2 separate regions of the Homo sapiens genome follow, and region 1 is linked to region 2. The links come from fine-mapping of genetic effects on gene expression. A gene starts in region 2. The other region holds a variant in brackets. All regions are shown on one strand. Distances are between the middles of the regions.

The links. PIP is the estimated chance that this variant, and not a neighbour inherited with it, causes the effect. A credible set is the group of variants that fine-mapping cannot tell apart.
Region 1: its variant is the best candidate, but not a certain one, in a credible set for the expression of ZC3H6 in lung (GTEx, PIP 0.66).

The regions. Positions count from the first base shown.
Region 1 is chr2:112,360,878-112,363,800 of GRCh38, reverse strand. The region is part of intron 1 of LOC124906067 (a long non-coding RNA gene); the gene reads right to left. Among named protein-coding and RNA genes, the nearest start is that of RGPD8, 71 kb to the left of the region's middle. The variant G/A (reference allele first, on the strand shown) is at 1,376.
Region 2 is chr2:112,274,474-112,277,380 of GRCh38, reverse strand. ZC3H6 (zinc finger CCCH-type containing 6) reads right to left here and starts at 1,784. Exons shown (of 12, transcript NM_198581.3): 1 at 1,355-1,784. The coding sequence starts at 1,386. RefSeq lists a silencer at 1,015-1,494 and enhancers at 1,685-1,894, 1,510-2,082.

The sequences.
Region 1 (2,923 bases), 86 kb before region 2:
TTAAATGGTGTGACAGATTCTAGAAAGAGTTACCTTTTGGTAAGAGCACTGCTTGTTAACTATAGTTGATTGCTTTAGATGTCTAGTGTGTATACAAAAGCATGAATTTTATTCCTTATAACCAAAGTAGAAACCTACTCTGAGCAATTTGACAAAAGGTTTACATTATTTATTTTAGTGTAGTTTAAGATTACAGTAAGATACAATTCCCAAAGAGTGAAATATAAGGCTGGGCGTGGTGGATCACGCCTGTAATCCTAACACTTTGGGAGGCTGAGGCGGGTGGATCACCTGAGGTCAGGAGTTCGAGACCAGCCTGGCCAACATGACAAAACCCCGTATCTACTAAAAATACAACAATTAGCCAGACGTGGTGGTGCGCACCTGTAATCCCAACTACTAGGGAGGCTGAGGCAGGAGAATCACTTGAACCTGGTGGGGCGGAGGCTGGAGTGAGCTGAGATCATGCCATTGCACTCCAGCCTGGGCACACTCTCAAAAAAAAAAAAAGTGCAACATAGCTTTTCACAAAATATGGAACTGTGGTAGTGTAGAACAATGTCTCAATATACCTCCTACACTAAGTATAATAGTAAATATCTGTATTTGGTGGCATAATATGTTCTTAGTATAAACCAAAAACACATGCTGAGCATTGGACATTGTCCAATGTTTAATTCATATGATTCATTCTGAGTTTCTGACTGAGATCATTCTTTCAGACTATGTCTATTTGTCCTGGGACCCATAAAATATGCAGCCCTAACATGATTTCATTTTTGTTTCCTTTCCTGGAAAAGGAGAAATCATTCAGATCAGCTTTCATATTGCCTTATAGACGATGACTTCAAAATAGTTTGAAAGGGACTCCTTTGTTCTAGAACTGCTCTAACACAGTAGCCACTAGCCACATGTGGCTATTGAAAGATTGAAATGTGGTTATTCCAAATCAGGATGTACAGTAAATATAAAATACACACCAGATTTCAAAGGCTTACATGAAAAAAGTAATGTGAAATATCTCACTAGTAGTTTTTATAGTGATTACATGTTGAAATTTTAACATTGTGAACATATTAGTTTAAATAAAATGTATTGTGAAAATTAATTCCATGTTTCTATTTACTTTTGATAAAAGTACTACTAGAGGCTGGGTGTGGTGGCTCACTCCTGTAATCCCAGCACTTTGGGAGGCTGAGGTGGGAGGATCACGAGGTCAGGAGACCGAGACCATCCTGGCTAACACGGTGAAACCCCGTCTCTACTAAAAACACAGAAAATTAGCCAGGAGTGGTGGCAGGCGCCTGTAGTCCCAGCTACTAGGGAGGCTGAGGCAGGAGAATGGCGCGAACCTGGGAGGCGGAGCTTGCAGTGA[G/A]CCGAGATCGTGCCACTGCACTCCAGCCTGGGCTTCAGAGCGAGACTCCGTCTCAGAAAAAGAAACACTACTAGCACATTTTTAAATTACTTGTAGTGATCTCATTTGTACCACATTACATTTCAATCGTATACTGCTTTTCTAAAGAGTCACTGCTAAGCCCTGAAATTAACTCCAAATACCTCCCTGGAATACAGTGCCAAGGCAGGGGCTTCCTTGAACTTCAACCTCCAAAAGTAAGCAAGAATTGAGAAATATCTTCTGCTTTGAAAAATATTCACTCCCCAACCCTAATACATCAATTACATATTATTTGGGGGCTAACTAAGCTCCTGTTTTAAAATGTAAATTGAAGAAATTAGGCCAGAGTCATTCCCATCTTAGTGCCAATCATATAATCAGATAATTAGATTGCTCTTTCCCTAAAGCCTGTTTAGTTTTCTTGTTTGCTGGTTTTGTTGTTGTTGGGTTTTTTAATTTGTTTTTGTTGTTGTTGTTGTTGTTTTGAGATGGATACTCACTGTGTCACCCAGGCTAGAGTGCAGCGGCATGATCTCTGCTCACTGCAACCTCCAACTCCTGGGTTCAAGTGATTCTCCTGCCTCAGCCTCCTGAGTAGCTGGGACTATAGGTGCATGCCACCACGCCCGTCTAATTTTTTTGTTGTTTTGTTTTTTTTTTGTTGTTTTTTTTTGTTTGTTTTGAGACAGTCTCGCTGTTTCCCAGGCTGGAGTGCAGTGGCACGATCTCGGCTCACTGCAACCTCCACTTCCGAGGTTCAAGCAATTCTCCTGCCTCAGCCTCCCAAGTGGCTGGGACTACAGGTGCATGCCATTATGCCTGGCTAATTTTTTGTATTTTTAGCAGAGATGGGGTTTCGCCATGTTGGCCAAACTGGCCTCAAACTTCTGGCCTCAGGTGATCCAGCCGTCTCAGATCAAAGTGCTGGGATTCCAGGCATGAGCCACCACTCACAGCTCGCTAAGGCCTTTTGCCAAGACAAATTAGCTCTTAGAGAACCACAGGATTCCTCTTGTAATGTATTACAAACTAAAGTCTTACCTGCTCTTGAAGAGTAGAAAACATGAAAAAGTTCTGTGTTAGCCCTTAGAATAATTAAAAATTCATAAGCTCTGAAATAAATACAGGTAATAAAGGTAATAAAATTATTGCCTATGACAAAACAAAAGTTTAAATTGGCGTTTGTAAACTCTGCACGAAAGCCAGGTTTCTCACTACTAGAAAAAGAAAAAAAGTTATAAATAAGCCAAGAATTCCAGAATGAATCCTGTGGTGCCAAATATATGTTAACTACAAGGAATAACAGTGACCTTACACTGGAAACACCTTAACCATGGGCCAAGGTTAAAGATATAACAGCTTTCTCACACCCCTTGCACAGCTACCCCCAATGTTAACATAACTGTTAATAAATTATCAAAACTAAGAAATTAGTCTTGGTATAGTATCACTAACTACACTCCAGACCTCAGTCAGGTTTTCCCAGTCTTTCCTTCAGTGTCCTTCCTCTGTTTCAGGATTCAATCC
Region 2 (2,907 bases):
TCCATTAGCAAAACCCCATCATTGGTTTGTCCATACCTCAAGAGCAAGGTATTAGTCAACCCATTCTAAGAATTTCCTTTTTAATACAAAAGATAACGTTAAAAAAATCATTAAAAATGTGCCAAGTGCAAGCTTATCATTTTTAAAAGTGCATTTTACTTTCCAAAAATTTTTACACTTTGATTGACGTGCCCTCTGGGAATCTACTTTTATTATTACAATACTGAAGTTGTTGAAATACCATTTTTATCCCTCTCAAGATTGCTAGGTATTTAGATATTTCAAATTTCAGCAGTGTTTGTGATTTTTGCTTCTGGGTTTTAAAAAACGTGTTTAGGATGCTTTACCAAGCCGATCACATTACTACAGATAAAACTTCAGCAATGTATATAGTCTATAGTAAAACGTATATTTTTTCTTACTTCTATTCACAAAGGAGTAATTGTGAGGTTCTAGATTTTCAAATTAATATTCTAAGTAAGAATCAGATGCAATGGATTTTGTTTCAGTAAGTTTAATGAATGAAAGCCCCCCTTTCGCATTATTAAAGATATATACGAATGAAAATTTGAATTATAACCAAAATTTAAGTATGCTACAGTATACTTTGTAAATGTCCCCAAACTCGAATGGAAACAAGAATGTGCCTCTTAAGGCACAGAGCAAAAAATAAAAAATCAGAATCTCAATATTCAAGTGATACACACCATCTAGAAAATTGGGCTAGCCGGAATAATCCATGGAGTTTTTACGTTAGGGTAAAACTGTGCTAAACTAAGTTTCTGCAAAGCCTAAGTATTTTGTGTTAACATATTAAACTTGAAACTTGCCATCTCAAATTCCAAGGGATAAGACTGTATACAACAGATGGCCTTTTGGTGCTGCTTAAAACTTCCCTGAAAACCAAATGTTTATTTTTTTAGAGGTGTTCTCGGTTCTCGGGAAGCAGTCAAATATCAAAACACCCATTCCTGAAAATTCCTGGCTGGTCCTATCTGGCCGGGAGCACCGACACCTGGACGGGCAGAAGCAGGACCTCAGCACCGAGCCGGGACGCTGAGAGCCGCCCGGCGCACACGGAGCCCGCCCGGGGGGCGGGGGGCTCGCACGTGCCCGGCCGGGGGCGGGGCCGGCGCTGGCGAGCAGCGACCCCGGCTCGGGGAGGCGGGCGCGGCCGGGCCGACCTCCCCCGCGGCCGCGATCCAGCAGTTTACATAAGAGTGCGCGTCATGGAACTGACGGAGCCACACAGAGACGTCTAGGTCATGCAGGAGGCGCCCGGCCCCGGCCCGCTCCCGCCGCCCCAGACCCCTCCTCTCATCCGACAGAAAGACAGACAAGAAGGGTTCCCGACCTGTCGTGCCCTGCATGTTCAGAGTCTGTCATGTTTGGTCAAGAACGGGGCGGGGCTGGAGGGCAGGTCTGCGAGGCCGGCGGCGGCGGGGCGCGGGGAAGACCCCCCGCGCCGCCTGCGGGAACCTGCTCCCGGCCGCCGCCGACAGGTGACGAAGTGGTAAAAACTCACGGTTACTAGTGAGCGACACAGACACAGACTTTCCAGTCTATTAACAACCACGCCAGAGAGATGGGGCTCTAACTGCAAACACTGGGCAACGGCCCCGCGCTGCCGGCGCTGCCGCTCTAGTCTCTATTCGCCGCCGGTGGCTGTGGCGTGGGAGCGGGCGGGCGGCGTGCAGCGACGCGGGGATTTGGACAGTGGCCGTAACGGTGATTTCTCCTCACCAACATGGCGGCACCCGAAACAGGCGGCTCGAGAAAATGGCGCCGGCCGCAACACCTTGCCCGGGACTAAAGGGCAAGAGAGATTCCTCCGCGAGCCGCGGCCCTTGCCCAGCCCGCCGGGGCCGAGCGCGTTGACCATTGGAGGAGAGTGCCCGTCAATCACCTGCAGGGGCGGGTCTTCGCCCTTCTCTGTGCAGCGGCGGAGGCGGCAGCCTAGTGGCGGGGCCGGGCGGCGAGAGACGCGGCCGGATGGCTCCTCGAGTGTCTGCAGGAGGGGGAGGCAGCCCACGGGACCTACGAGGGCCACCAGCGCTTCTGCTCCCGGCGCAGTACGGGCCGCGGTTTTTCCTGCGAGACGCCCGCCGCCCGAGGAGTTCCAGACGCACCAAGCAAACGGGCCCCAAAACCGTTAGCCGAGGCGGGCAGGGGTGGGATAACAAAGAACAAGGCGGCTGTAGAGTCCTTAAATTTTTTTGTGAAAACCTTTGTTCTTGTAATAATAGGGAAATGCAGTTTCTCCTTCACAGTTGTAGCAAGTATCTGTTTTTGTAACGTTTAGTGTTCAGAATCATGTTTTAAGGAAAATAGCTTGCCATGCAGTTTTTTCTTGTATTTGCTGTTAAATTTACCCAATTATTACTTAAATAGGAATAGCTATTGAAATAATTATATAAACGTTACTTTATTTCGTAATAATATTAACATGTAAAATGTATGCGAGTATTTTATAAATACTATTAGGCATGCCTTTTTTTTTTTTTTTTTTTTTTTTTTTTTTTTTTTTTTCTGAGATGGAGTCTCCTCTGTCGCCCAGGCTGGAGTGCAGTGTCGCGCTCTCGGCTCACTGCAACCTCTGCCTCCTGGGTTCAAGCAATTTTCCTGCCTCAGCCTCCCGAGTAGCTGGGACTGCAGGCACGCGCCACCACGCCTGGCTAATTTTTGTATTTTTAGTAGAGATGGGGTTTCCCCATTTTGGCCAGGCTGGTCTCGAACTCCTGACTTCAGGTGATCCGCCCTCCTGGGTCTCCCAAAGTGCTGGGGTTACAGCCGTGAGCCACCGCGCCCGACCATGCATGAGTTTTTTATACTTATGAAGTGACCTTAAAAAATTTTTAAATGACAAGTCAGTGTTTTGGCCTATTTAATATATTAGTCCTGAAGGAA